2 separate regions of the Homo sapiens genome follow, and region 1 is linked to region 2. Evidence: fine-mapped expression QTL. A gene starts in region 2. The other region holds a variant in brackets. All regions are shown on one strand. Distances are between the middles of the regions.

Region 1 (16,387 bases), 620 kb before region 2:
AGCCTCCCACTTCAACCTCCCAAGTAGCTGGGACTACAGGCGTGCACCATGCCTGACTAAATTTTGTATTTTTTGTAGAGACAGAGTTTTGCCATGTTGCCCAGGCTGGTCTCGAACTCCTGGCCTCAAGTGATCTGCTTGCCTTGGCCTCCCAAAGTGCTGAGATTACAGGTGTGAGTAATCATGCCTGGCCATGACTGTATTTAAAGTCTGAATTAGGAAAGTATCTGTAGGACTCTGCCTTATCTTTTTGGCATCATGAGGATGATGATGATGATGACGACGGTGATGAGAACAATGATTGATGTCACTTTAATTAACTCACACTAACACTTCTAAATAATTGTCACCTCCTCCCTCCCCTGACTTCAGTGTCAGTAAGACATCTGGTGGGTAAGAACTTGGCATTCCACTGACCCTCTTACCATCAGTATGATGACTGTATGTGACTTTGGGGGTAGCTGGTGACTTGTGGGTTGGGTATACCTGTCACTCTCTGTTGGGAGCTTTGTAAGTGAAAGGGGTTAGTTGGACGGGAAATTCACTACCCAATGACCAAGGTGGGTGAGCAAAGAAGAAAGACCCATGGTGATGACTAAAATGAAAAAGCAGTCTTGATGTTTGCCAGGAAGGTGGGGGAAGGTGAGGGTTATTGAAACTTAAGGTTTGAGTCCCACCATTGCAAGCCTCTCACCTCCAACCCTGTGAACCCACAAATATTTTCAGTAGAGCAAAGGCTCCTTCACTGGGGTCCACACACTGGGAATCTGGACACAAGGCCAGGTCTGAGGTTTCCTTTTGTGCTTTCTAAGGACATGACAATAGCTGTGATGCTGAATTTCTGAGGAAATAGCCAGTGTAAACAAGATAAATGCAGTGTAAACAAGAGACATGTTTATAGCCTACTTCAGAATCATTTTCTAAGCATACTGTAAACCATGCTTGTGGTACCTTTTCAGACATTGGTTAATTATAGCAACTTATTTGTTCTTGAAAGCAGATAGGGCAGGATGTTGACTTGGTAACACTTTGTTAGCCACTCGTTTGTGTTATTTTATGCATCTGGAGGCAGCGCTTGCTCGGGGTGGGATGGGTGGTCAGGCACTCGTGTTCTCAGTTATGACCAGACTTTACAAAAGAGCTGATACATTCTGCCTGAATGTCTGGAATTATTTCAAAAACAAGCAAAGACAGTTTTCAACTTAAGAAAAATAAACTGCATTTTCAATCTGTATTTTACAGAATTTCCTTTTCTCCTGAATACATTTTGCTGACAGGTCTCCAATATACACCCTGCATGGGAATCAGGGTCCTCTCAGACACCCAAACTCCCTTCCCCTCTCACACAGCCCTTCCCCCATATAGAAGGTGTTTCTTGTGGCCCAGACACATCATTTGCGCTCATGCCTTTGTGCCTTTAATCATGCTTTTCCTCTGCCAGAAAAGTCCTCCCAGCTCTCCTGTGTGGTCTCTCCAGTACCAGTGAGGACAGAAATTTTCTCACTCTTCCATTTCTTGGGGAGCCTGGGATAGGCTTTGAATATTTATTATTCATTGATAAATAATGAGTATTTATTTGTTGAAGGGATAAGGAAATGAACAATGAATTATTTTATTACTTTAAATAGAAAATATCATGCCTTTTTCACAGAAGGGTAAGTTCAACATCCCAGTGCTATTTGACCGAGGGGAGCTTGCCTTCTTCATCTCTTAGGAAGTTTTTCTCAACTTCTGAATTTTTCATGTGCAAGCACTTTTCTGTCTCTCTCTCTCTCTCTTTTTTTTTTTTTTTTTTTGATGGAGTCTTGCTTAGTCACCCAGGCTGGAGTCAGTGGCGCAACCTCCACCTCCCAGGTTCAAGTTATTCTCCTGCCTCAGCTTCCCGAGTAGCTGGGACTACAGGCGCGTGCCACCACGCCCGGCTAATTTTTGTATTTTTAGTAGAGACGGGATTTTACCATATTGGCCAGGCTGGTCTCGAACTCCTGACCTTAGGATCCGCCCACCTCGGCCTCCCAAAGTGCTGGGATTACAGGCATGAGCTACCGCACCTGGTCCCACTTTTCTAAACACTTAGAAACATTAACTTAATTTAGTTCTATTTATAGTCTCATCGTACAAGTTGGTGCCTGGTGATAAGGTATCACATAATTCTCTCTGGTTTTTTTTTTGTTTGTTTTTTGTGTTTTTTTGAGACAGGGTCTTGCTCTGTCACCCAGGCTGGAGTGCAATGGTGCGATCTCAGCTCACTGCAGCCTCCGTCTCCTGATTAGCTGGGACCACAAGCACACACCACCACACCCAGCTAATTTTTTGTATTTTTGGTAGAGACAGCGTCTCATAATGCTGCCCAGGCTGGTCTCAAACTCCTGAGCTCAAGCAATCCTCCCGACTCGGCTTCCCAAAGCACTTGGATTACAGGTATGAGCCACCGCGCCCGGCCTCCCTGTTTTTTCATGTGGGGCCTCATCTTCCCAATTCATTGGAAGCTCCTTAAGGGACACAGCTGTACAGGACACACTTCTGGAATTCTCCTGTGGGATCCAGGCCAGTGCTAGAACGTGGCAGATGTGTTCCGTAGACACTTGCTATGTGACTAGGAAACTTCGTAGTAAGCTCAGGTTTTGGAACATTTTATTCGGGGCTTTGAAAAATAGCTGTTTCGTGGTTTCATCACTGTGGCTTAGGTAGGATGAATGAACATCGTAACAGCTGAGAAATTTCATCCTGAGTGGACAAGCCTCTGGAAGTTTCTCCAGACCTTGGGTAACTCTATATTCCTGCCCCATTTGTGTGGTGGTTAAATTTTATTTTATTTTTGAGATGGAGTCTCATTCTGTCACCCAGGCTGGAGTGCAGTGGTTCTATGTCAGCTCACTGCAGCCTCCGCTTCCCGAGTTCAAGCAATTCTCCTGTCTCAGCCTCCTGAGTAGCTGGGATTACAGGCGTGTGCCACCACGCCTGGCAAATTTTTGTATATTTTTAGTAGAGATGGGGTTTCACCATGTTGGCCAGGCTAGTCTCAAACTCCTGACCTCAAGTGATCTGCCTGTCTTGGTCTCCCAAAGTGCTGGGATTACAGGTGTGAGCCACTGCGCCTGGCCCCGTGTGGTGGTTAAATCTGAGTCCTCAACTTAAAATACAAATGCAGAGGAAACACAGCCCTTTCTTCTGTGAACCCCAATACTTAGGTTGCTCATCTGCATCCTTCTAAGAAATCTTTGAATCTTCTTCAGTCTTTTTTTCATCAGCCACACTGGAAGTCTTGGACATGAACCACGATACCCCCCTACTTTGTCCCAGCACAGAGACACACAGGTTCCCCTGACTGGCCCCAGTGACTGTTTCTGTTTAATTCCATTTTTGAGTAGATTGGTGGCAAGCTCTTAATTCTCAGTTGAAACTTATCTCCTTAGTTTCCTTCTCTGCTCACTTTCTTTTTCCTTGTATCTAAAACTTAGAGAAAGAATCCAGCATGTTTATGCTACAGGCCTTCATCCTGCCTTCCCACCTTGACTTTACCTTATTTAAACTAAAAAATAATTAGTTTAACAAAATGGAAGCAAAATAGCATAATGCAGCATTTCCCAAACTTCAGTCATTTGAGAACCACCAACCTCGTTTTTGGCTTATGTTTGTACCATAGTGCTACTATTTTCTTAAATTCATGTACCATACAATTCATGCATTTTAAGTGTACAACTCAGCAGTTTTTGGTGTATGCGGTTAATTTTTAAAAATTGTGGTAAAATGTAGGTAACAGAGTATTTGTCATTTTAACCAATTTAAAGTATACAATTCATTGGCATTAATTACTTTCACAATGTTGCGCAGCCATCACCACTCTTTCCAAAATTTTTTCGTTGTGCTATTAAGTTAATATTTTCTTTAAGTCAATTCATATTTTCTAAGTAAGTATATTTTAAAAGGAAACTTTGCCACTCTACATGAAAAAACCAGTATCTCTTGATATAGATAGAAGTTAGATATAAAAATATAGATAATAAAAAGTACACATTGGTATTAAATTCTGTGGTACACAGATTCCTACAGAAGCCTGTGGGCTTAAGGCCCTGTTCCCTCTATGGCGCAAAAGGAGAAATGCATGGTAAAGAGGTGTTGAAGGCATTCTTTTACTGGTTGAAGTCTTTTCTTTTTGATTTAAGTGGAACTGAAAGATTTGAAAGGGGACTGCTTTCTTAATGTGTGGTTCAGTGTTTTGGAATGTTTGCTGTACACTTTTATTTTTTTTTTTCTTAAAAAATCCTTTATCATCCAACTTGACGCTGTACACTCTAGAATCATCCTGGTCTCACCAGGGTGCATGGCTCATGGTATGGGAAACCCTGGCAGATGGATGACAGCATGGGTTTGGTTAAATTGTTGTCAGGTTGCCTTACAGCACACACTGGGTGACTTGGACAGTGTACTTAGATTTTGGCTGTAAAATGTGTGGAATGATACCAATGTAGTTGCTGTGATAAAATGAAATCATTTATGTTGTGTTTTGCGTAGTTCCTAGCATATTGTAACCGCTCAAGAAATGGCAGTTCTGGTTGTTTTTAAGAACCATGCTTGTTTATGCATTTCTCAAGGCTTAATACTGCCTTACAAGAGTAGTTTGTGTCCTCTGAAAAATATTCTCCAAGATCAGCAAACGTCATTCTTTTCCACACCCCTTCCAGAGCGCCAACTGAGTACCAGACATTGTATAGTGAAAAGAGGCAGTGAGCACTGTGGTGTGAAAGCTCAGTTGGAAAATGGGAGAGTGCAGCCTTGGGTTGGAGGCCACTAGGGCATGGAAGACCATGGATGGTTCCATTGGCATGAAATATTTCTTGACTTAAACCCCATCCTTGGAATGTGCCCATTTGCCATGGTGGCAGGTCACAGCATACCTAACCAGGGCAGCATTGCTCGGAACAAGGCAGCACCTTTAGGCGTCAGTGACAGCAAAAGCTCCAGGTTGTGTCTCATGAACTTCAGAGTCACAACCCCAGACCAGGAATAGGAAGTGATACCTTCCACTGCCCTGGGCCACATCTAGAAGGGAGGCAGGGCAGTGGCACCTGGGGGTGGGGAGTGGATTCCTACCTCTGCTCCGTGCTGCTGCTTGACCTTGGCTGGGTAATTTCATTCCTTCTGGGCACTGGATTTTCATCTATAAAATGGGAATAAGCATTGATTCCTATTTTACAGGGTTGTTCTGAGGATTAAATGAGATTAGGACTATTGAGCAGTCACCATAATATTTAACAAATGGGAACTTTGATCATTATCATTATAAGTAATAATAATGACTGTCACCAGCTCTTACCTAGCATTAGCTACTCCATGTAGCTTAGTTGTGGGTCCAAATGCATACATATATTTATTACATTTAAAATTCATAGTTTTTTTCAGACCCAAATAGTGTATAGATTCCCCTTAAGGGAAATAAATATTATGAAGCTTTAGTGTCGACTAATTAATGATTTTGATGTTGTTTAAATATGCATAGACATATTTAACTCTTTTTTTTGTTTGTTTGTTTGAGATGGAGTCTCACTCTGTTGCCCAGGCTGGAGTACAATGGTGCGATCTCGGCTCACTGCAAGCTCCGCCTCCCAGGTTCACGCCATTCTCCTGCCTCAGCCTCCCGAGTAGCTGGGACTACAGGCGCCTGCTACCACGCCCGGCTAATTTTTTGTATTTTTAGTAGAGACGGGGTTTCACCATGTTAGCCAGGATGGTCTCGATCTCCTGACCTTGTGATCCTCCCGCCTCGGCCTCCCAAAGTGCTGGGATTACAGGCATGAGCCACCTCGCCCGGCCTATTTAACTCTTTTTTTATTTGTATGTTCTATAGTCATACATATTTAATTCTTTATGTTTATTGTTCTGTCCCAACTCCGAAAGCAAAACAAATGAACAAGACACAAATACAGGTATAAAATAAATAAAATGCAAATCGACCACGTTCATTTTGTCATAGAGGATGCTGGTTTATTGTGGCAGCGTCCTGTGCACTGTGTGGAGGCTGTGGTACTCGCCAATCTGTGGGGAGTCTTGCTCCGTCTCCCCTGTGTTATTTTGGGGCTTGGATCTCCCACCACATTTCTCTATTTAAAGTAGTGTACAGGAAAATCTCCTTGTGTTCAGTTGGCACAAATGTCTCATTTCCATATCATCCTGCCCCCTTCTTTCCTCAGTAACCTCTGACATTTAGCATAGCATGACCTACCTGCAAAGAGATTGCAGACACAAACACAGGCTCAGACTCCTGTGGCAGGACCCCCTTTATAACGTGGTCATTCATATAATCTGAAAAGTTCTTGCATCCCATTTAAAAGGCATTATGATCTAAATGAAGAGCCCAGACACCGATTCTCATAAAGAACGTATCTAAGGACTTTCTGCAGACCAGACACTGGTTTGAGAGACAGTGACTCATATACTGACTGGATCTCCAAAGTATTTGAAGCAGTCTTAAAAATTAAACACAATATAAAAAAGAGAAATAGGCAAGACCAAGGACCTGGACAGGAGTGTGAAAGAGGCTAAGAACCAAATTTGTCACCGAGCAAGGGCCAAAGGTGAAATATACCAATGTTCGCTCGTTCCTTTTATCTGATAAGAGAAAGCACTCAAGTTCTCTGAAGAGACAGACTTTTCCTGCCATAGAATTCAAGGAGTATTTATTACATGGATCCTTTATAGATGACACTTTGAAGAACCAGATGCACACAGAAAGTCTTTTTCAATCATTTCTCCAGAGTTTCTCTAGACTTCATAAAAGCTGAGAGGATATTGTGAAATTTTAAAGCAGTGAGGATGCTACTGGCATCTTAATAATACTTTACACTGAGGAGGATCCCTGGGGTTTTCAGAGTACCTTCGCTCAAACATTATTATTCGAGTCTCAGGACAGCAAAGGTGGTATTATCTTCAAAGC[G/A]GGAAGTGGTCCAAGAGGGATCTACATGTTCAGGTGGGAAGGTCTGAGACCACCCCACTCTGTCAGGTGGGTAAGAGCAGTGCTTATGTCTGAGTGGGCATTTCCTTTGAAGGAAACTTTTAATCTGCTGAAGTGCTTGGACCCTGGCCCTGTTGGGACTCTGCCTTCTCCGTAGTGCATTGTGGAAGAGGCCACTGTGGCTTGTCAATCAGCGCCACCAGAATAACCCTGCAGAATGAATGACATCCTGCCTAACTTCCTGAAATGAGTGAGCTGCTGGTGGCTATCTAAGGTGACTAAATGAATAGACCTACTGGAAGGAATTGTTTATTTTGTATGGCCTGTCTGAATGCTGGGAAATATCTGCCAAGTGCCGCACTATTAGCATCAATCTCATTTGTGTCAAGCTGGGCTCTTGGGCAAAATTATTAGCTAATAGATTGCATTGGTTTTGTGCCTATTTTAAAAAAATGATTAGCTAATAGATTGCATTGGTTTTGTGCCTATTTTTAAAAAATGATTAGCTAATAGATTCAGTTGCTACTTTTTCCCTTACCCTACCCCCATTATCAAAGAAATGCTTTCTCACTATGGAAAATACTAAAATACATAAAATGGTAGAAGGAAGGAGGGAGGGAGAGAGGAAAGAAGCATGCAGAATCCAGCCACACATTTTCTTCTGACCTTTTAAAATGCATTTTTTATATAATTGAAATCCTGCAGCATCTGAGATATAATTTTATATCCTGCTTTTTCGCTTCGCATGCCGTAAGCTTTTACCCATGTCACTTAGAACTCTTTGAAAATAATGTTTTTAATAGTCTTTTAGGTTGTTTTCAGTTTTTTCACTGATGCAAAGCCTCTTGGTTCAGAATCTTTATTTTGGACTTTTATTTTCCTCCTTAAGAGAGACTTCTGGAAATAGAATTATGTGGCAAAAGCTGTGAACATTTTCAAGGCCTTCTCTTTCTCTGGGTGTGGACACATGGCTTTCCAGAAAGATTGTGCAGTTTGTACTTCCCTCAGCAGCTGGGGGGTATCTGTCCTCCAGTCACCTTTAAACCCTGCACTGTTTAAAGTTTAAAGTTTATTGGGTGTACTTCACAGCATTTTCTAATTTGAAAAGCTAAAATAGCAAGACAGCATTGTATTTTCATTTGCATTCTCATGATGACTAGTGAGAATGAATGATATTTGTTTGAATGGGGAGGTAATTTGTATTCCTTCTTTTATGAATTGTCTTCTTATTGGTCTTGGGGTATTTTAAAAGAGATTTCGTGACATCTTCGTATATTAAGAAGATTAGCCCCTTATCATTTTTACTTCAAATTTTTAAACTGTTTGTGATTTGCCAATGGGTTTCTTTTTTTTTTTTTTTTTTTTTTTTTTTGACGGAGTCTCACTCTGTTGCCCAGGCTGGAGTACAGTGGTGCGATCTCGACTCACTGCAACTTCTGCCTCCTGGGTTCAAGTGATTCTCCTGCCTCAGCCTCCTGAGAAGCTGGGATTACAGGCGTATACCACCATGCCCGGCTAATTTTTGCATTTTTAGTAGAGACGGAGTTTCACCATGTTGGCCAGGCTGGTCTTGAACTCCTGACCTCAGGTGATCCACCTGCCTCAACCTACCAAAGTGTTGGGATTACAGGTATGAGCCACCGCGCCCAGCCTGCCATTGGTTTCTTTGTTGAGGTATAATTCACATACCATCAATTTATCCATTTAAAGTGTACAATTCAATGTTTTTTTCGTATATTCACAGATTTGTGCAATATTCACCATAATCCATTTTAGAGTATTTTCAATCAATTTTAGAATATTTTCATCACCTCAGAAAGAAATTTCATACCTCTTAGCTATTGTCCCACAATCCTGCCAATCTCCCCAGCCCAAAGCAACCACTAATCTACTTTCTGTCTCTATAGATTTGCCTGTCCTGGACATATATTTGGAATCATATAATTTGTGGTCTTTTATGACTATCTTCTTTCACTTAGCATAATGTTTTCAAGATTCATGCATGCTGTAGCATTTATCAGTACATCATTCATTTTTATTTATCTATTTAATTTACTTATTTATTGAGATGGAGTTTCCCTCTTTTTTTTTTTTTTTTTTTTTTTTTTTTTGAGACGGAGTCTCGCTCTGTCGCCCAGGCGGGACTGCGGACTGCAGTGGCGCAATCTCGGCTCACTGCAAGCTCCGCTTCCCCGGTTCACGCCATTCTCCTGCCTCAGCCTCCCGAGTAGCTGGGACTACAGGCGCCCGCCACCGCGCCCGGCTAATTTTTTTTGTATTTTTAGTAGAGACGGGGTTTCACCTTGTTAGCCAGGATGGTCTCGATCTCCTGACCTCATGATCCACCCGCCTCGGCCTCCCAAAGTGCTGGGATTACAGGCGTGAGCCACCGCGCCCGGCCGGAGTTTCCCTCTTGTTGCCCAGGCTGGAGTGCAGTGGCGCGATCTTGGCTCACTGCAATCTCTGCCTCCTGGGTTCAAGCAATTCTCCTGCCTCAGCCTCTTGAGTAGTTGAGAATACAGGCGCCCACCACCATGCCTGGCTAATTTTTTGTATTTTTAGTAGAGATAGGGTTTCACCATGTTGGCCAGGCTGATCTCGAGCTCCTGACCTCAGGTGATCCACCCGCCTTGGCCTCCCAAAAGTGCAGGGATTACAGGTGTGAGCCACTGCGCCCGGCCTTATTTATCTATTATAATAAGAAAATGTGTCTCTATTTATATAAAACAACATATTGTTTTGAAATTTATTTCTCTTTATTGCTGAGTAATGTTCCATTATATGGACATACCTCATTTTGTTTATCCATTCATCAGTTGATGGACATTTGGGCTGTTTCCACCTTTTGACTATTAGGAATGATGCTGCTACAGCATTTTGATTTTAGTTTTTTGTTTGTTTACTAAAGTTTTAAATTTATATTATCAAGTCTTGCTCATTTAGATTGTGATTTTTGTTTGTTTAACAAATATTTTCCCAAACCACTGATAAAATGTTCACATGTATTTTCTTTTTAATTTTTAAAATTTGTTTATTTATTTTGCATTTTAATCTCTAATCCATCTAAATTTTATTTTGGAGTTATAAGAATTAGGAAGAATCTAAATAGTACCCCTCACTTTCCCCTCTCCTTTCCCTTTCCTTTCCCTTTCCCTTTTCCCTTTCCTTTCCTGTCCTGTCCTGTCCTGTCCTGTCCTGTCCTGTCCTATCCTGTCCTTTCCTTTTCTCAGTGTCTCGCTCTGTCTCCCAGGCTGGAGTGCAGTGGCACAATCTGCAACCTCCACTTCCTGGACTCAAGCGACCCTCCCACCTCAGCCTCCCAAGTAGCTGGGACTGCAGGCACATGCCACCATGCCTGGCTAATATTTTTGAGTAGATTTTATATTTTAGAGCAGTTTTAGGTTCATAGCAAAATTAAGTGGAAAGCATGCAAAGTTCCATGTCTGCTCTGCCCCTATGTACACACAGCCTCCTCCCACCCCCATCAACATCCAGCACCAGAGTGGCACATTTGTTACCACTGATGAATCTACATTGATGCATCATTATCACTCACCCGAAGGCCAGAGTTTATATTAGGATTCACCTACTGTTGTATACTCTATTGGTGTGGACAAATGTCTAATAACATGCACCCACCAGTATAGTATCATACAGAGTAGTTTCATTGCCCTAAAAAGCCTCTGTGCTCTGCCTATTCATTCTTTCTTTCCTCCTAACCACTGGCAATCAGTGATCCATAGTTCTGCCTTTTCCAGAATGTCATATAGTTGGAATCCTACAGTGTGTTTTCAGATTGGCTTTTTTTTTTTTAGATGGAGTTTTGCTCGTTTCCCAGGCTGAAGTGCAGTGGCGCAATCTCAGCTCACTGCAACCTTCACCTCCCAGGTTCAAGTGATTCTCCTGCCTCAGCCTCATGAGAGGCTAATTTTTGTATTAGCCTCTCGGCCTCATGGCTGGCTAATTTTTGTATTTTCAGTAGAAACAGGGTTTCACCATGTTGGCCAGGCTGGTCTCGAACTCCTGACCTCAGGTGATCCAACTACCTTGGCCTCCCAAAGTGCTGGGATTACAGGGGTGAGCCACCATGCCTGACTCAGAGTGACTTCTTTCACTTAGTAATATGCATTCAGGTTTTCTCCATGGCATTTCAGGGCTTGCCTGCTCATTTCTTTTTGGTGCAGAATAGTATTGTATTGTCTGGGTGTACCGCACTTTATCCATTCACCTACTGAAGGACATCTTGGTCACTTCCAAGTTTTGGCTGTTTTGAACAAAGCTGCTATAAACATTTGTGTGCAGGTTTTTGTGTGACTGTAAGTTTTCAATTCTTTTTGGTAAATACTGAGGAGCATGATTGCTGGATTGTTTAGTAAGCTTGTGTTTAGTTTTGTAAGTCTGTCTTCCAAAGTGGCTGTACCATTTTGCATTCCTGCCAGCAAAGGATGCATTCCTACCAGAAAAGGAGAAGAACCTCGGGAAAGGATGCAAGTTCTTGTTGCTCCACTTCCTGACCAGCATTTGGTGTTGTCAGTGTTCTCGCTTCTGCCCATTCTCATAGATTTGTAGTGCTATTTCATGGCTGTTTTAATTTGCGTTTCCCTGATGACATATGATGTGGACCATCTTTTCAAGATATACAGATGGCTTCTTTGCCATCCATGTGTCTTATTTGGTGAAGTGTCTGTTCAGGTCTTTTGCTCTTTTTTAAAATCAGGCTTTTCGTTTTCTGCTTGTTGAGTTTTAAGAGTTCTTTGTATATTTTGGGTACAAGTATTTTATTAGATATGTCTTTTGCAATATTTTCTCCCAGACGATCGCTTATCTCTGCATTCTTTTGACAATGTCTTTCGCAGAACAGATCTGTACTGGTTTTTAATGCTTTTTAAAATCCCATATTAAGTTTTTATGGGAATGAAGCCTTAATTCTGGACCATCTCTTGTATTCAATTGCTCTATCCATTCTGTTTTTTAATAACTTTAATATAAAATAGGACTATCCTTTATTATTTTTTAAAACTTTACTAGAAGACGTAATACCTATATAAATGGAGTTTTCCAGGGTAGGAAATAATTAGTATTATAAAGAAGAACATTGTCCCAAATAAAATGTTAAATTCAATTCAAAGAAGGTTGTGTGGCTTTTACTCTAAATATTATTTTAAAACTGAGGAGTGTTTTTTCATGGTTATTACTTTTTTTCATGGTTATTGATTTAGTCAGGTTTTTTACTTCTTTAAAGACAATTTCAATACTTTATATTTTTCTATTAAAATTGCATTTTGTTTTTTTTTTTTTTGGTAGAGACAGAGTTTTACTATGTTGCCCAAGCTGGTCTTGAACTCCTGGCCTTAAGTGATCCTCCCACCTCAGCCTCCCAAAGTGCTGGGATTACAGGTGTGAGCTACCACACCTGGCTGCATTGAGATTTTCTTAGCACAGAGTTCTCACTTTAATATGAATTCTTACCGTAGACTTTTCACTTCAATGTGTTTCATAAAATTTCTTAAAATATAGACTAGTGGGCCAGTAATTTGGGAGAAATAAAGGATTTGTCTTTGTTGAAACAATGGTAGACTGCACTGTGGGTCCATCCCAAAGAGGTTATACCTGTGTGATATACTAGAATAGGTAATTGGTAAGAGTTTGAGCCACTCCAGCCACTGTGGCCACTCAGAATAGTATCTAAAAAATTCTGGAGCAAGAAATAGTTTCAAGGAGCTTCTTTCTATTTTAAGTAACTGAATGTTTCAAGTCCATGGGATTACTTTCTCATCCCAGAAGAACCTCAGAAATATTTTTTTAAATGGTATGTCCAGGAATCTAATAATAATTAACTGAAACTTCATAAAATCCTTAAGAAGAAGACTGTGTGAATTGTCCCTGATGTTTTTGGCTTTTTCCATTACAAGCTCCTGTGCTGAGTGAGGGTTGCTTGGGTGGCATGTATAGCTCTGTCCAGGGTGATGGGCCCTGGCTGTTTTAGAAGTGATCAGTCAAGGAGAGAAGGGTGTGGGGAAGGGCATATTCAGCAGAGAAAACGGCAGCCTACTGTGTTAGTTTTTGCAGGGATTGAGGGGAGAGCCAGGAGAATTAGAAAGGAGAGTTGGAGGAGACCGATGGTTCTGATGCCCAGCTAAAAACCATATCGCCTTGCGTAGAACACTCTGGGTCCTTTGCTCTACCTCTTAACACTAGATTCTGCCTGACGTACAGACAAGGACAAAGATCTGGCAGCATTCAAACAGGCATTCTGGAGTAGCATGTCTTGGGAAAAATCATGGAGGGGGAATAGTGGCAAGAGTACATGCCTCATTGCCTGTTGCTCTCTAGGGCAGCCCATAGACATTCAGCAGTCAGATGCCAGGCTCTGGGACGGGACCTCCACTCTAGGCTACTGAGATTTTAAGCTGCATGGCTAGGGAAGAAGCCCCGGCCCCTCTGCTGGCCTGAGTAGGCCAGGGGTCAGGGTCTTATAGTTACAGCAATAGGATACGGTGGTACTGAGGCCCTGTAGCCCTGCCCCCAACTCGGCCTTTATGGTTGTGGAAGCACAGCCTCTTCCTAGCATGACCTGGGGTCTAGGGTGAAAGCCTGTGGTTACAGCTTTCCAGGGTGCCTATCAGCAGCTGTTTCGTAACCCTAGCATTCTACCAGGACAGTTGCCACAAACTCTGCAGAGGCCAATTTTCTTCCAGGAAACCAGGCTGCAGGAATCAGCCAAACTAACCCTTGCTTCTCACCTCTCCTGTCCTTTTAGATGATGGACTCTCTGAAGGCAGGGTTAGTGTCTGATTCGTCCTCGGGTTCCCTCAAGTACCTAACATATTTGGCTGCTTGTATAAGTGGTTAAGGAATGAATAAGAGCAAACCCCAAAAATAGACTGATGAAACTTCTCTCTCCTCTCAACCATTCTATTTTTTTTTTTTTTTTTTGAGATGGAGTTTCACTCTTGTTACCCAGGCTGGAGTGCAGTGGTGCAATCTTGGCTCACTGCAACCTCTGCCTCCCAGGTTCAAGTGATTCTCCTGCCTCAGCCTCCCAAGTAGCTGGGATTACATGCATGTGCCACCACACCTGGCTAATTTTGTATTTTTAGTAGAGACGGGGTTTCACCATGTTGGTCAGGCTAGTCTCAAACTCCTGACCTCAGGTGATCCGCCTTCCTTGGCCTCCCAAAGTGCTGGGATTATAGGCCACCACGCCCAGCCCTCTCAACCATTCTTAACCATTTTGGGATTCTGTCCCTCTTTGGGGATCTGATGAATGCTTTGAACTATCTCCAGAAAAGTGCAGGCAAATGCATACACATGTGCATGCACACACACACACACACACACAATCTTGCACACAACCTCAGAGGTAGGTCTATCAATTAACAGATTCTGGTTAAGAGCCCCTGCCTTAGAGCTCTGGTAGGTTCTCAGCAGCATCTCATTCTGTGCCAATACCACACACATTTGCACACCCCTGCTCACCAGCCCTGACTCTGTGCATGCTCCAATCTTTCCGTGGTACAGGTGTTGCCTGTGGAGCCTGGTTAGATTTATCTAAAGTTTGTTGAAAATGATTGCTTTTCACTTTTGCTTCCAGAGGGGATACATTGGCTAGCCATAACCCTGAGACCTAGTGGCTTTCTGGACAGTGCAGGTTTTACTTGATGTTCCAAGAATGACCTTTAAGTGGACAGTCCCTACTTGAACCCACCTAAGGGGAAAGGGCCTTCTTCCTTTCCTCACTCCTCTTCATCCCTGCAGGAAGTCTGCAGGTAAAGCTTCCGGAAACCCATTGGTTAAGACTAAACCTGCAGCCTCAGACTTTCTGGCCTTCCCCTCCATGATTGTCATCCCTCTTGCTGTCATTCTGCCCTGTGGCCTACATGCTGTTTGGCTTGTCTTCATTAGGTCGCCTTTCATGATTTCCTGAGTCAGTCCCTTCTGCTTGTATTGGTTTGACATTCAGAGCCGTTTCCTATTTTGCAATATTTGGGGCTCTCATGGGGTGGAACATGTCCACAGTTCTCCTTCCTGCCGTTCCCATTCAGCGGTGTCCTCTATTTTGTAGATTCTGGCTGTGACTCAGTCACTGACACTGAGCCTGAGGACGAGAAGGTTGTTTCCTACTCGAAGCAGCAGAACCTGCCGACGGTGACTTCACCTGGGAACCTGATGGTGGTGCAGCCGGACCGCATTCGCTGTGGGGTAGGCACTGCTGGGGGCCTGGTAGCTGGATGTCAGCACTTGGGCTTTTCAAATGCATGCATTTGTTGCAGTAAAGAGAGTGGTTTCTTGTATTGCACCTCAGTATAATTGCAGCCTTCCTTTGGGATTTCTTTTGAGTACCCTGTTACCCGGGCCCTGGAGACACCCAGCTCCCCTGAGTAAGAGAGAGACTAGCCCAGGGAGATGTGTGTCATCAGTCTAAGACTTCTGTTCTATGGATCAGTAATAACGTAGAGCACCTAGGAGACCAGCAGACAGGAGCATTCCAGACACTAACGCTAACCCTAAAGTTAGAGGCCTGTGTCTCTTCCTGGTAGCCTAGTGCTGGGAGGAAGGAAATGCATCTTGGGCATCTGACAGCTTGCTTCTCCATCACTGGCCACTGCCATGGCCCAAGGAAGTGCCTTGAAGCTTGACGGCTGAAACCAACTGGCCAATATTGCTTTTTAAAGGGATCAGATAAATGCCATACATCATATGACTAGCATTTTCAGGGGTGGGGCATACATTACAGATGACTTGAGTGTGAGGGCCCAACTGATGAGCCACTGCCATTTGAATCCTACCTTAGTACTGATGGTTTTTCTTTATTTTTCCTTTCCTAATTAAAAACGTGTGGCATTTATGATAGTTCAGAGCAGCAGAATGCTTCCTTTATGGATACAAGCTCTTTGCTAAGATGGCTTTGCAGGCTCCTTGAGGCGAGACAGCGTGGGAGCCTTGGCAGTGGGCAGCACTGGCTTCCTCACCCTTGTGGGTGGTTTTGTGCAGGCTGAGGCCGTGAGGCATTGGGCAAGCACTTCCTACGTGGGGTTGCCAACTGTTTCTTTGGGCCAGATTTAACTGATAGTCATTGTATTAGTCTGTTTTCACGCTACTGATAAAGACATACCTGAGACTGGGAAATTTACAAAAGAAAGAGATTTAATTGGACTTACTGTTCTACATGGCTAAGGGGGCCTCACAATCATAGCAGAAGGCAAGGAGGAGGAAAGGCATGTCTTACATGGATGGCAGCAGGCAAAGAGAGAGATAACTTGTGCAGGGGAACTCCTCTTTTTAAAACCATCAGAGCTCATGAAACTTATTCACTATCATGAGAACAGCACAGGAAAGACCCGCCCCCCCATAATTCAATCACCTCCCACCAGGTTCCTCTCACTGGGAATTGTGGGAGTTACAATTCAAGATGAGATTTGGGTGGGGACATAG
Region 2 (16,387 bases):
GGCAGTGGGAAGTCATGCTGCAGCTGTGTTTTATTTACATTCAGCCTGGTTCTACAATGGATCTGAAATAACTTACAAAGGGACATTCTGGGGACAAAATAAGTAGTTGAGGTCATCAGATCAAAGGAAGAATAAAGGTCAGAAAATAAAATCTGAGAAGAGATTAGTACCAGAAATGATACTACATAGGACTACATTTGGTTTTAGATTTATAAGCAGCCAGGCACAGAAGTGCTAAAGAACTCTGGTGGCATGGATATAGGGGGAATGTTCCTTATTTCATCCCAGCCATATTTGACCCCAAAACCTCAAGGGAGAGTTAGAGGTGAAGGTTATCAGTATATCTACATACTCCTTTAAGATTCTATTATAATGACATGGATAATACAGAAACTACATTACTGATTTAACTTCAATATCAAATACAATCTTTATCCCTCAAGTGAGAGTTAAAAGTGAAGGTTATCAATACATCTACATACTATAAATTTCATTGTAATAACATGAATATAGAAACTATATTACTGATTCAACTTCCATATCAAATACAATCTTCCACATTATTAAAAGAAAAAAAAACACAATTTCAATTCCTTTACGTGCCCTATCTTCAGTGAGAGTACCAACGAGCAATGAAATGAGGTATAGGAAGATGTAAAGAGAAAGAGGGGCCAAAAGATCCACCAGTATATTCTGTACTAAGTAACAAATATGGTTGTATCAGATTGTATCTTGGAGCCTACTACACAGTTGGTCTAATGCATAAGCAAAAGTTTTCACATTTATAGTAGTTGCACATTAACTTTTAGTTCATTAAGCCAACTCATTATTTAGTCAGTAGAAAGTATTCTAATATAAGAATATGGTACTTTTAAGACAGTTTCTCAACTTTAGCTCCATTGATGTTTTGGGACAGAGAATTTTGTTATGGGAAACTGTCCTGTACACTACCGGATGTTTAGCAGCATCCCAGGCCTCTATGTACTAGATGCTAAAAAAGCATCTCCCACTTTATCACCAGATGTGACAACCAAAACGTCTGTACACGTTGCCAAGTGTTCCCTGTGGGACAAAACTGCTCCTGGTTTAGAACCACTGCTTTAAGACAATGGTTCTCAATTGGAAAGGTAAATCAAAATCACCTTTGGAACTTTTTCAAAAAGTTAAAAAATACCCAGTACCCATTATGTAGATTTTGTCTTAGTAGATCTGGAGTGGCCGAGAATGTACGGCTTAGGCACATGTTTTTAACAGGCTCCAAAGCCATTTTTCAATGTCTGGTTAAGAATTATTACACTGAGAAGCACTTTTAACATAAGCTTCTTGATACTAGTGAACTGGAATGAATGGGATTTGATGATATTTCACTGAGTTCTACATAAATTTATTTTATTATATAAACATCAGAAATTTCCAGTCATGTAAATCAGATTCATACTTACTTGCTAGAAGCAGGCAGGAAAGCGCAACTAAATGCAGCTGCTGGATAGAGATGTCATAGCGGTCCATAAACAGGTCCAGTAAATAGACAGCAAGATGGCGGGCAGAAGGGCAGAGTGTGAAGCGATTGCTCACAATGGCAATCAAGTCAGCAAAATACCGTCTGAGACTTAACTGAGGGGACTGGCCTTTATAGGAGGGCAACTTCAGCTCCTAAGTCAAAAGGAACAACATTTAGTCTGACCTATCTGTAGGCGTATCCCCACAAGGCAATGACTTAACATTGTTTTTCCAATATATTAGTATTACAAGTGCCTAAAACATACTTTTCTTGACTGGAATACAAAAATGAAAAAGTTAAGTGGAGGGATAATGAATGACATTTAAAACCAAATTTTTCTCCTTACTCTTAACCACTTCTGATGTGAACAATTATAGATGTTCTTGTTTCTTGCTTTCTAGAATGGATACATCCTACAAAGATTTTTAATAAGAGAATCCTGTTTTCCCTACCAGGTGTTTTCAGAAAAACATCCCTGACAAACCAACCACATACCACACACACGCCCCTACACCTCTCCAAGATGCTCAGAACTTTTGGTTAGAAGGTAATAGATAAGTGGATATGCTGCATACAGTATTATACTTGCAACAGTGTAGAAAGCAGTACCTTTCCTCTAGTATCTTCTAATTTTGTTTCCCTTTTAACAGTTTTATGATCTGCCCTTTCCCATCATCCTCTCATACACCTAAAATCACTTCAATCTCAGGACTATATTATATCAACTTGTTTTTTAAAAACTGGAAAAATTCTATACTATTAAAATATTTCCAGAGCATAGAGAAAGATGGAAAGCTTCCAAATTCATTTTATAAGATCAGCATAATACTGATACTAAACCCAACAGGTATCACAATAGAAGAAGTAACAGGGATACGATACCAAAAGCAGAACTTCCCCTACCCTGCAAAAAAAAAAAAAAAAAAGAAAAAGAAAAAGAAAAGAGAAATGGGACTTTAACAAAATTAAAAACTTTTGTTTAACAAAAGATGCTATCAACAGAGTAAAAGGGCAACCCGCAGAATGGATGAAAGTATTTATAATCATATCTGATAAGGGGTAAATAGCTAGATTATATAAATAACTTATACAACTGGATAACAACCAAAAAACCTAATTATAAAAATGGGCAAAGGATTTGAATAGACATTTCTCCAAAGAAGATACACACAAATGCCCAAAAAATATCATAAAACATGAAAAAGATGTTTGTTCAGCATCACTAATTATTAGGAAATGCAAATCAAAACCACTAACAGCACTTCACACCTAGTTGGATTGCTATTATCAAAAAACAAAACAAAACAAAACAAAACCAGATAATCATAAGTGTTAGCTTGAATGTGGAGAAACTGGAATCCTTGTGCATTCCTGGTGGGAATGTAAAATGATGTAGTTGTTACAGATAACAGTATGGCAATCCCTCAATAAATTAAACAGAGTTACCACATGATCCAGCAATTCCACGTTTAGGTACATACTCAAAAGAACTGAAAGCAGGGACTTGAAGAGAGATTTGTACACACATGTTCAAAACAGGATTACTCACAATAACCAAAAGGTGGAAACAATGCAAATGCCCACCAGCAGATGAATGGATAAACAAAATGTGGTATATACATGGAGTATTATTCAGCCTTAGAAAATTCTTATAATATACTACATGGTTGAACCTTGGAGACAGTATGCTAAATGAAAAAAGTCATGAAAGAACATTTATTGTATGATTCCACTTAATGAGTTACCTAGAATAGTCCTATTTACAGGGACAAAGTAGAATAGTGGTTATCAGAAGCTAGAGGGTGGGAAATTGGGGAGTAATCGTTCAATGGGTATGGAGTTTCAGTTTGGGAAGATGAAAAAGTTCTAAAGATAGATAGTGGTGACAACAATGCAAATGTACCTAATGTCACTGAACTGTACAGTTAAAAATGGTTAGAATGGTAAGTTTTATGTTATGACAGCTGCTGGCAAGGTTGTGGAGAAAAAGGAACGCTTTTACACTGTTGGTGGGAGTGTAAATTAGTTCAACCATTGTGGAAGACAGTGTGGTGATTCCTCAAAGACCTAGAGGCAGAAATACCCTTTTACCTAGCAATCTCATTACTGGGTATATAACCAAAGGAATATAAATCATTCTACTATAAAGACACATGCATGTGTATGTTCACTGAAGCACTATTCACAAGAGCAAAGACATGGAATCAACCTAAATGCCCATCAATGATAGACTGGATAAAATGTGGTACATACAGACCATGGAATACTGTGCAGCCATGAAAAGGAACAAGATCACGTCCTTTGCAGAGAGATGGATGGAGCTGGAGGCCATTATCCTTAGCAAACTAATGCAGGAAAAGAAAACCAAATACCACATGTTCTCACTTATAAGTGGGAGCTAAATGATGAGAACACATGGACACATGTTGCGGGGAACAACACACACTGGGGCCTGTCGGAGGGTGGGGGTGGGAGGAGGAAGAGGATCAGGAAGAATAGCTAGTGGATGCTGGGATTAATACCTAGGTGATGGGATGATCTGTGCAGTAAGCCACCATGGCAAACGTTTACCTATGTAACAAACCTGCACATCCTGCACACGTACCCCTGAACTTAAAAGTTGGGGAAAAAAAGTTTTATGTTGATACATTTTACGATAAACAAAAAAGGGAAGTTATATATTCACCTAACTTAATATTACCTAAGATAAATGGATAAAATAGTCAATGTAATTTAGTAGTGTAGCCAAAGAATACATCAATTGTTGTTTTTTGAGACAGGGTTTCCTGTAGCCCAGGCTGGAGTACAGTGGTGCCATCTTGGCTCACTGCACCCTCCACCTCCCAGGCTCAAGCAATCCAACCACCTCAACCTCTGGAGTAGCTGGGACTACAAGCGCTCACTGCCACGCCCAGTTAGTTTCTGTACAACAGGGTCTCGCTATGTTGCCCAGGCTGGTCTCCAGCTCATGGACTCAAGTGATCCACCTGCTTTCAGCCTCCCAAAGTGTTGAGATTACAGGTGTGAGCCACCATGCCTGGCCAAAAAAATTTTTTTTTTCCACATAAAGGGAAGATGCCGATTTCTCATGTAGTTCCTAGGATTTTTCTTTTCTCCTTAACTCTTTCTTTGGATCTTTACAATGGTGTAAGTGAGTTGCAACTTTACCTTTGCTGCCACCATGTGACATTTATTGAGCATCTCCCATGCAGCAGACACTATACTAACCCAGGCATAAAAGCTGGAAAAACAGTCTCAAGCCTATCTCTAGCAGGTGAATCAAATACAGAGCTTATCACACAATATAGTCACCACAGGTTATTATGGCAACACCTAGGAAGAAAATCTAACTTAGCTCAGGGATTAGGGAGTTGGGGAAAAAAGGCAAAACCAGAGCAGGTTTTCCCAAAAAGTGGCCTGAACATGGTCTTAAAGACTCCCTGGAAACACCTGGAAAACACTGATGGACTTCACTTTCTTAATGTTTCTCACAAAGCTAGAATTGTTCCCATTTGTCATTAAGGCTCCTAAAAACACTTTCCCAAACAGCCTATGACACTAACTATACACAGCAAAATAATGAGAAGAAAGGAGACAAAAGGGTGTAAGGTGACAGCTGCTTTGTAGGGGTTTTTTGAGGGAGTGGATAGTTGGCATGATTTCCATTCATTGTCATTTTCACTCTTCCCTAGTAAACACAATGCTAGTCACACCAAATATTTCTCCACAAACCTAGGGCCTAAACATAGAATACCTTCTGCAGTATCTCAATGGCAACTGCCCAAAGGAAGACCTAAATGTGGATGCTCTAAATTATAGATAAGGTTAGACTATGAAGGCAAGGATCATGTCTCGTTCACTGTTATTGCTCTAACACCTGGCATGATATCATGTATGTCATAAATGATCAACATGTTGAAGAAAAACAGATGACTATCCGACTGAATCACCAATTAATAGCCTGGAATTACCACGTCTTTTCTAGGAGAAAAGTCCATTTTAAGTTTCCTTCAGTGTATTACAAACAGTGGTCTCTCCAGTTCCACAAGTTTAAGTTTTACAGATTAATGTAAATTCTTGTATAAAGTGTTGCCAGTAAGAACCATGGTTTGCATAATGCTTAAACATAAAGACAACCCAGGGCAGTAGGCCATAGGTGGCCCAATAAAACTTTCAGTGGCATTCCTTCACACCCTGTGCTACCTTGTCCTCTGATAGTTCATAAGCAACTTGAGTGAGTATAAGGTTGGGTCTTATGCCTTGGATGCTCCAGAAACTAATCCACAAAAGCCTTCAACAAATCTAAATCTAGGAGAAAAAACAAAAAAACAAAGAACCCATGTCCAAACTCAATTGACAAAATGCAGATAATCACTCACGAATTAAAATGATCTACACATAAAATGATTGAAAAGTATGGAAATCACCAAGAAAAACCTTTTAAGTTTCATGCCAATTAAAAAATATACTCTTGGCTGGGCGCAGTGGCTCATGCCTGTAATCCCAGCACTTTAGGAGGCCGAGGCAGGTGGATCACCTGAGGTCAGGTGAAACTCCAACTCAAAAAAAAAGTACTCTTAATATCAACTAATTAATTTCACTACATACCAGAGGGATAAAAAGGCTGACACTTAAAACACTTTTCAAAATATGTGCAACTATATTAATTTTTTTAAAAAAGAAAACATTTCACATTGAAAGATGACATCTGCCAAAAAAAAAAAAGATCAAAAGTGTATCTGGACAATTTTCCAAGAAACTGCAACTCTTTCCTAACTAACACTCCAGAGATCCCATTAGTTAGAATTTTTATGTGGTATAAACCATCTCCTAGGGGGCTGAACTGTATTTTAGTGAATCTAAGAGACTGAATGTCAGAATTAGTTAAGTAGCATTTAGAAATCTCAGGCCTAGAAAAGGGTAACAATTTAAGTCAGAATTAGGTTTTCCAATCTACTTGACCTGGTCAGAAACTCAAGATAAAAGTTCATTATCATTCCAGGATCTCAACCCCAAGAGTCAGAATCCTTTTTATTGAAAGTCAGCTGTTTTGCTTCTTTCTCAATTTTCTACATTTAACAAATGGCTTTCTTTATCCAAGGTGAAACTGAGTTAAGCTAGAGATCATTTTGGATCTGGTCTCTCTTTTGGTTATCGAAGAGGCAGAAATGTCTCATTAATCTGCCTTGCCACATGCAGAGTAAAACCGTTACTTAATAGCAACAATACACAGACTTTGCTTTGTGTTGGAAAAGTATTTTTTTCCAATATCTATTAAGTCTACTTTCTGCCTTTGATATCAGCAGGAAGGGGCAGCCAACTCCCTCCACTTTAGGGCTTTTGAACAGCCCAAATCCTGAGGGGTAAGTGATAAGAAGTTATCACTTAGTGCTTACTATATACCAAGAGCAGTTTCTAAGCACATGTACGGTACTAACTTAAGTTTCACAATCGCCAGAATCATAAGGCACACTCATTATTCCTCATTTTACAGATGAGGAAATCAAGAAACAGAAATTTCACTTGTCCACGTCTCACGGCAAGTTAGCGGAAAGGCTGAGGAATTTATGTACAAAAGCGACTTAAACTGGCTGCATGCAACGGCAACTCTCGAACAAAGAGGGCTGTTCTGCCCAACAAAAATTCAGTGTATATATCTTTTAAAATACAAGATCAAATTCATGACCCACCTGGAAGCCAGAACGCCCCTTTCCACCTTCCCTGGCCCAACTACCATCTCCCTACTCATTCAGGTTGCAGGTTCTTTTGATACATCCCAGAGAAGGAGCCAAGAAGTTAATTAACCTTGAGCAAATGAGCAAACTCGCCTTTTCTGGCCCGGAAGATAGTGAGTAAAGAACCTGACTAGACCTTCTAGAGAGCCGAGATTCAGAACAACTGGCGCGACACACAGAAGGAGAAGGCAGGCCGGGCCTCGGAGTTACCTTGTAGCGAAGCGCTTGGTGAATATCGGCGGCCAGCTGTCCTCGCCACCACTGCCCCTCCAGCTCCATGGGACCCGGCGGCGCGCCCAGCCCGACGCGGCAACTCGAGTCTGTAAGACACACCCCAGGCGCGGTCACTGCCGGCTCCCCCGCGACCCTCTGCGCCCCCTCCCCGGGGGGTGTGACCTCAGGCCACCCGGTGTGGCTGCTCATCTTCACTTGACTCTTCCTCAACCCAGCCCGACCCGAGTCGTTTCCCCCAACGCCACACGCGAAGCCGGGTCTGCCCCCGCAGGAAGAGCCGAAGGACTCTGAGACTCACTGCTCGACTATGTGTCGGGCAAAAGGGGATCCACTCGGGCCCTGAGTTGCCAAAGCGCGGAGCCAGGTGCGAGCTCGGGAAGAGCTGGGGGAGGCCCGGCTGGGGCTCCCTGCGTCCGGGGCTGGAGTTCTCCCGCCCTCCCTGAGGAGCGGGGAGAGGTGACACGCTCATAGCCCCGCTGAGGGGAAACGCTCCCATGGCAAAGCCCGGGGGTGAGCGTCTGCCTGGCCGCGGGTCTCCGCATGGACGTCGGGAGCCTGCTCCTCCCCGGGAGCCCCGAGAAACGCACGTTCCGCGCGGCCTCAGAAAGGGGAACAAAAGGCCGGGCCAGCCAGGCTCTGCGCCTCACCCCGGGAGGGTCCGCTGCCCCACGCCTACCCCAGGCCTGCCGGGCCGCCCGGCCCCACGCTGGCTCCCTTACCCGGAACCGCGGCCCTCACAGCCCCAGCCCCGCCGTCGTGCGGCGGACGCCGGCCCCGCTCATGCTGCGGACAGTGGGCCGCTAAGCGCCGGCCTCAGCTAGAGCCCAGCGCCTGGACGCTCGCGCCGCCCATTGTTAAAGGACCGGCAGGCGGCTCCGCATACAAAGCCAGCGCGGGGGCACTTGAGGCCCCGCCGCTGCCAATCTCGTCTCGCGATACAGCGGGGTCGCCCCGAGCCGTCCAATTGGCGGCCGGGCCGGGCCCAGGTGCAGCGCCAGGCGGCGGCGCGGCGGCTCCCGCCTGGGTACGGTCAGCATCCCGCACGGCGCGGCGTGGCCTGGGCTGGCCTGGCGCTTCGGTTGCCGGGGCGCTCAGCCGCCACCTACTGCGAAGCCGGCCTGATCGCCGGCTGAGGTCGGCAGAGAGCGCCGGAGAAATTGTAAGGTGGATCACTGCAGTGACCAATCCAGTTAGGCCACTCACCTGCTGAGAACCTTCGATGGCTCCTCGATGCCCGCGGAGCAAAGTTCCGACGCCTCAGTTTGGCGTTTAAAAGTCTTCACGGCATGGATTCGGTTTACCTTACTTCACGTTGCACCAACCGCTTCCATCCCAGGGGCTGCTCCGTGGATCATCAGGCCCTCCAAATGTGCTTTAGCTGTTTCTGCAGCCCCTGAAGCGTTTTTTTTTTCCTGTGAAATTATGCTCTTTTTTTAAGTTCCACCTCAAACTCCACCTTTCTTCTAGAAACCTAATTAATCTCTTCCCCCTCCTTATTTTCGTTGCTGTAGGGATTCCCAAGAGCTTTGAATGAAGACATTTAAGATTACTTCTAGTAACCTTGCTTGTCAAACCCATGGTGGATGTAATTAACCATCTGTGCTCGTAAATCAGGAAACTGCAAAACTGTGAGAACACTCCGACGTCAATTGAGGTGATATGGGGGCTGAAATGTGATTAGAGGAAACCTAATCAATTGTATTTTAACCTCTTTGGTGGATTATCACAAAAGAGGTGGATGGTAACCCTAGGACAGTGAGACTGTCCACTTTTCTGAGACTGGAGATCAATCTCTTAATAGTAAAACGTAAATATTTTTAAAACTTCACCCCTTTTACTTTGAATCCTTTGTCCAAAAAGATACATGATGATAAAGAACTACTACAAAGTGATAAATACATTTTATGTGATTCTGGGTGGCATCTTCATTTGAAGATCATCAGCAGACATGTATATGAGCCGTACCCTATCCATAGACGATGCTTATACCCAGGAGAGCAGGCCCGCAGGAACCAAAGGCAAGAAAAGGGAAACTCAGAAGCTGAAGTTGGCAGATCCCGGCCTAACCCGACATAGTCCAGGGAGAAGGCTGCCCTGGCCTGTCTCTCAGTTGCAGGGTCCTCTAGAGTGAAGGTAGACACATCAGGCTAAAAGCTTCATGCCATTTTTAATGGCATTTAAATAGTGTCTACATCCTTGGGTTCCATTTCATGACTATTAAACAACTTTATAATAATTTGGCTTCTAAATAACTGTCCAGGGCCTATTTAAGAACACTTTCAGAAAAATGGGGCACAGACTATAATCATTAGTATAAGAAGTAGACTGTATTTATCGCTTCTACTTTGAAAATATTGTTCACTGGGATATATTTGTTCAGAAATCATTATTGTTTTCTGGACTTGCCTTGTGATGAGAAGACTTCAATGTCCATTTCCTTTTATGGATTAATGTTCATTTTACACATATATTTTGCCATAGTGTGTCTTAGATAGTAAATCCTTAAAATGCAAAGTTCAAACTTACTATGATTTATTTAATTCCTTTAGAGCAAGGTGGACACAGTTAAGGTATTTACTTAACTCCTAAAGTCTCTGCTCTCATAGAGTTTTTATTCCACTAGAAATAGAGATACAATGAACAACAACAAAAAAACATATCACATGGTGACAAGTGATGTGAAGAAAAATAAACAGAAAAAAAGGCTAGAAAGTGACCATGGGTGGGCTGGGTGTGGTGGCTCATGCCTGTAATCCCATCACTTTGGGAGGCTGAGGCCAGCAGATTACCTAAGGTCGAGAGTTCGAGAACAGCCTGGCCAACATGGTGAAACCCCGTATCTACTAAAAATACAAAAATTAGCCAGGTGTGGTGGTGGGCGCCTATAATCCCAGCTACTCGGTAGGCTGAGGCAGAAGAATTGCTTGAGCCCGGGAGGCGGTGGTTGCAGTGAGCCGAGATCGCGCCACTATACTCCAGCCTGGGTGACAGAGCCAGACTGTGTCTCGGAAAAAAAAAAAAAAAAAAGAAATGGGTGGACTTTGTTTCATGATAAGGTAAGGCATGCAAAGGCCTGAGGGAAGTGAGAGAGTAGGTACGTATCAGGTGGCTGAGCATTCCAGGCCGAGGGAATTGGTACACGCAAAGACTCTAAAGTGAAGGCATGTTTGGAATGAAAATAGAGGCCACTGTATGTCTGGAGTGAAGAGGAGATAGGAAAGACGTTCTAAGTCAAGGAAGCACTGATCACCAATGGTATGAAAGAATGGAAGTAAAAAAGGCAGAACATCTATATAAAGGGCAGAATAGGGAAACTGCAGAGTCCTTTGTGACTGCAGCATAAGGCACAGGTAGATTTGACAAGAGATGAGGTGGGACCAGATTCTCTGGAAATCTTCTGTAACTCACAGAACTTTACGCCGTGGAAAAGCACTGATTTTTTAATTGTTTAAGTTTTTTAAATGAATGCATGAAAAAGCTAGAAGATTTCAAGCCATAGAAGACTATACAGTGACTAGCAAGTTTCTTTCCCTCCCTGGTCCCAGTTTTTTCCAGAGGTGACACCATTACTCTTTTCTTTTGTAGCCTTCCAGGGATATCCAGGTATTTATAACCATGTATATATATATATATATATATATATATATATATGAAACTCCCTTGCCTCATTTTATGTACAAATGGTAGTATGTTACATGCTCTGTTGTGTACCTAGATTTTGTCATACAGAATATTCCGGCGAACATTCCATAACAGGACATCCAGGATTCCTTTTAATGGCAGCAGCATATTCTACTGGATGCAAAGGCCTGGAAGCCAACAGCCCTGGGCTCTGGTTCTCTGTTCTTGATTTGTTGCTATTTGTAGTATTCAACTCATTGCAACTACTATTCATATCCACCATCTCTCAGTTACACTTGTACAGTAGTCTCTTAACTGGTCTTATTGCAACTGCTCCTGTCCTTCTTGAAAATATTCATCACCTAGTAGTTGGAGTGGTCATAAAAAGGTAAATCACATCTGAGCTTGATAGTCAAGAGTTCCTAGATCACATTTCCAAACTGTTTTAGCATATTGAACAATGTTAAGGATAGTTTTTAAGTCTACTTTATAAAAAATTAGTTCCAGGTATTTGTAATCACAGATATTTGTAATCTGTAATTTATGAAAAATATTCCAAATTTTAAAATGCTATATAAGATTCTATTTCTGGATAAGATGAATGTGACAGTTAATTTTATGTGTCAACTTGACTGGGCCAAGATTGGGTGCCAGATATTTGGTCAAATATTATTCTGGGTGTGTCTGTGAGAGTGTTTTTGGATGTGATAAACATTTGAATCATGGAGTAAGTAAAGTGGATTGCCCTCCCTAATGTGAGTGGTCCTCATCCAATCAGTTTAAGGCCTGAATAGAATAAAAAGATTGACCCTTTGTCGAGGAAGAGAGAATTCCTGCTGCCCAACTTATTTGAGCTGGGACATAGGTCTTTCCTGGCCTTCAGACTCAAACTGAAACATCAGCTCTTCTTGCATCTTGAGCCTGCCGGTTTTCAGACTGGAATTACCTGTCAACTCTCCTGGTCTCCAGCTCCTGACAGCAGATCTTGGGACTCCTCAGCCTTTATGATCATGTAAGATATAGATATATAACTATAGATATAGATATAATTCCTTAGTTTATATATCTGTATCTCTGTGTATATGCATATACACACATATATATGCAGATAGATAGGTAAATACACACATATGCACATGCACATTCTGTTGGTTCTGTTTCTCTGGAGAACCCTAACACAATGGATTAAGCCAGCTTCACCCTGTCTCTCCCACCGAATGTAACTATAAAATCTGGACAGACTGCATGAGCAGCTATTTGAAGACAATGTAAAGTAAATAGTAGCAGGCAAGTGGGGAGGAAGACCTTAATTTGAAATATCACCAAACTGGTGGTGAGTTACCCCTTCTTCCTCCAGGATTCCCCAGCTTGGATTCAGGAAGCCTGAAATCTAGAAATGGGCACCAGGGCACAGAAAGGGAGAGCCCTAGGAGAATCCCTTTTGTTATAAGGAACAGCAAAGGAGTCTCCTAATGATCAGAGTGAGGCAATTCCCATTTATTTATTTTTTCTTTCTTTTCTCTCTCTCCTGCTGTAGCCCCCAGGCATTCTTCAGCAGATTGGTGGTAGCCACAACAGTGGTAATAGGGGCCAACAGGTGCCGAAAACTTAGGAAAGGAAAGCCTCTTATCTGATCAGAACAGCTGTGGTTGTTTGTTTTCCTTTGTCTTCCCACTGCCTTACTCTGGATGGAGGTACAATAATGGGAAGTGTGGGCAAAGAGGTGTAACTAAAAACCACAGCTTTATGGCTGGAGAACTGAAAAAGGGAGGCCCAGGGAACTGAAAAGTACTGGGGAGACTGTGGAGAGGGAGGAGCAGCTTTGGAAAATGATCCCACAAAGTGCTTATGAACAACTGGGCTTACCTCTGAGTTGTGCATACATAGATCCACTCTGAAAAGACTAAAAACTCAGAACTGCCCAGAGCAGTGGCTGGCCACTAAGCAGCACACATATGTGACAGATCTGAGTAGCACAGAAAGACTTTGAAAATGGACCTGACATCGAAACCACAACCCACAAAAGGCTAGCCAGAACTTGCAGCCTGAACTCAACCAGATTGGTTCCCGGCTACAACAAAAAACATCAACATTCTCCAAAAGATTTAAGTAAGACGTAGATCTCCTAACATACAGCATATTCAAATTGCCCTGGATACAACCCAAATTACTCAGCCTATGAAGAACAAAAACAAATCTCAATTCTCATGGGAAAGACAATCAACAAACACTAACACTAAGATGACAGAGAATTATTTGACAAGACTTTAAAATAGCTATTATAGTAATGCTCCAAGAAGAGAAAACTTTCTTGAAATGAATGGAAAGATAAGAAGTTTCAGCAAATAAATAGAATACATAAAGAAGAAATTAGATGGAAAATTTATAACTAAAAAGATAGAAAAAAACAAAACTTAAAAACACTCATGGGATGGGCTCATTAGGAGAATGGAGATGTCAGAGTAGTCAGTGAACTTCAAGGTAGATCAATAGAAATAGTACAACCTGAAAAAAAGTTGGAAACAAATGAACAGAGACTTGGAGACCTGTGGGATAATACCCAGTGGTCTAATGCTTATGTCATTGGAGTCTCTGAAGGAAAGGAGAAAGAATATGGTACAGAAATATTTGGGAGAATAATGGCTGAAAATTCCTCTAATTTGAGAAAAGACAAAAACAGATTCAGAAACTCAGGTGATGCTAACAAGGATAAACCCAAAGAAATCTATACCCACACACATAATAAAACTGCTAAAAACTAGGCTGGGCACAGTCGCTCAAACCTGTAATACCAGCACTTTGGGAGACCAAGGTGAGTGGATCACTTGAGGCCAGGAGTTTGAGACCAGCCTGGACAACATGGTGAAACCCCATCTCTACTAAAAATACAAAAATTAGCTGGGCGTGGTGAGGTGCACCTGTTATCCCAGCTACTTGGGAGGCTGAGGCAGAAGAACTGCTGGAACGTAGGAGGTGGAGGTTGCAGTGAGCCAAGATTAAGCCATTGCACTCCATCCTGGGTGACAGAGCAAGACTCTGTCTCAAAAACAAACACACACACAAAAAACCCTTCTAAAAAACTAGAGAAAAAAATTGAAAACAACCAGAGAGAAACAAAACATTACTTATAGGGGAAGAATGAAAAATTCAACGTATGGTGGGTCTCTCACCAGAAACCAAGAAGACCAGAGAGAAATAGAACAAAATTTTTTAAATGCTGAGGTGCCACAGAAAAGAATGAAATCATGTCCTCTGCAGCAACATGGTTGTAGCTGGAGACCATTATCCTAAGTGAATTAATGCAGGAACAGAAAATCAAATATCACATTCTCACAAGTGGGAGCAAAACATTGGGTACTCATGGACATAAAGATGGCAACAATAGACACTGGGTACTACTAGAGCAGGGAGGGAGAGAAGGGGGGAAGGACTGAAAAACTAACTGTTGGTTACTATCCTCACTACCTGAGTGATGGGCTCATTCATATCTGCAACCTCAGCATCATTCAATATATCCATGTAACAAACCTACACATATGCCCCCTTAATCTAAAATAAAGGTTGAAATTTGTTTTTAAGTCCTGAGAGAAAAGAACTGTCAGGCCCAGAATTCTAATCCTGCAAAAATATCATTCAGAAATGAAATTAAAGACATTTGAAGATGAAAGAAAACAAAGACTTGTTGTCAGTAAACCTGCTCTAAAAGAATTGCTAAAGGACATTTTTTAAACAGAAGGGAAATAATACCAGAAGGAAACTTAGCACATCAGGAATGAAGGAAGAACAACAGAGTGATAAATGTTTGGGTAAACATTCTTTTCCACTTGAGTTCTTTAAAATACATTTGATGGTTAAAAGCAAAAATGTGAACATTGTCTTCTAGTGTTTTCAGCATATACTTCAACAGATACAATATATTAGACAATTATACCATAAAGGCAGAAGTACAAAAGAATATGTGGTAAGATTTCTACATTCCACTTAAAAGTGGTAAAAAGTAGATTCTGTGTAGGCTGTGAAAAGTTAAATGTGTATTAGGATAATCCCTAGAAAAACTTAAAAAATATATACAAAAACATATAGTCAAAAATATAATAGATACATTAAAATGAAATACTAAGAAATGTTCAAATAACCTGAGAAAGCAGGAAAGAGGAAACAGTGGAACTGAAACAGAGCAAATGAAATGCAAATAATGAAATGATAGACCTAAGTCCAAACATACCAACAATTACATTAAGTGTAAATTGTCTAAACACACCAATTAAAAAAGATTATCAGAGGGTATAAAAAATATCATAGGCCAGGCATGGTGGCTCACGCCTGTAATCCCAGCACTTTGGGAGCCTGAGGTGGGCAGATCATGAGGTCAGGAGATCAAGACCATCCTGGTCAACATGGTGAAACCCCAGCTCTACTAAAAATACAAAAAATCAGCTGGGCATGGTGGTGCACACCTGTAATCCCAGGTACTTGGGAGGCTGAGGCAGGAGAATTGCTTGAACCCAGGAGTCGGAGGTTGCAGTGAGCCGAAATTGCACCACTGCACTCCAGCCTGGCGACAGAGCGAGACTTCATCTCAAAACAAAACAAAAACCGTAACTCAGGTATATGCTGTCTACAAGAAACTCATTTCAACTATAATTATATAGGTATGTTAAAAATAAAAAAATGAAAATATGTATACCACACAAACCCTAATCAAAAGAAAGCTGGAGTAGCTACATTAACATCAGACAAAACAGACTTCAGAGCAAAGAAAATTACTGAGACTAAAGAGGGACATTGTATAATGATAAAAGAGTTAATTCATTAAGGAGACATAAATCCTAAATGTGTGTCCATCTAACAATAGAACTTAAAATACATTAAACAAAAACTAACAAAACTGAAAGAAGAAATAAACTCCCTGGCCAACATGGTGAAACCTCATCTCTACTAAAAGTACAAAAATCAGCCAGGCATTGTGGCAGGCGCCTGTAATCCCAGCTACTCAGGAGGCTGAGGCAGGAGAATCGCTTAAACCTTGGAGGTGGAGGTTGCAGTGAGTTGAGATTGTGCCACTGAACTCCAACCTGAGTGGCAGAATGAGACTCCTTCTCAAAAAAAAAGACATAGAGAAACTTATAATTACAGTTGGTAACTTCAACACTCCTCTTTCAGTAATAGAACTCATAGACACAAAAGTAGCAAGGATATAGGAAAAATAAACAACATGTCAACCAAATGGACTAAAAGAAATTCCCATCAGTAGGGGAATGGTTTGAATAAGCTGTAATAAATAACATTTACAACC

Alleles and levels. Alleles are on the strand shown, and positions count from the first base shown. SD is a standard deviation of normalised expression in the study named.
With allele G in place of A in region 1, the expression in NK cells of the gene that starts at base 8,326 in region 2 is lower (large effect, 2.0 SD a copy in Gilchrist 2021).

The links.
Region 1: its variant is fine-mapped to the expression of CCNJ in NK cells (Gilchrist 2021, PIP 0.95).

The regions. Positions count from the first base shown.
Region 1 is chr10:96,655,565-96,671,951 of GRCh38, reverse strand. PIK3AP1 (phosphoinositide-3-kinase adaptor protein 1) reads left to right here. Exons shown (of 17, transcript NM_152309.3): 3 at 15,018-15,154. Among named protein-coding and RNA genes, the nearest start is that of PIK3AP1, 57 kb to the left of the region's middle. RefSeq lists a silencer at 5,013-5,082 and enhancers at 7,193-7,262, 13,940-13,999. The variant G/A (reference allele first, on the strand shown) is at 6,935.
Region 2 is chr10:96,035,522-96,051,908 of GRCh38, reverse strand. CCNJ (cyclin J) reads right to left here and starts at 8,326. Exons shown (of 6, transcript NM_001134375.2): 1 at 8,190-8,326; 2 at 7,447-7,556; 3 at 1,443-1,653. The coding sequence starts at 7,515. All of the region lies in intron 2 of ENTPD1-AS1 (ENTPD1 antisense RNA 1), which reads left to right. RefSeq lists silencers at 8,046-8,615, 8,743-8,937.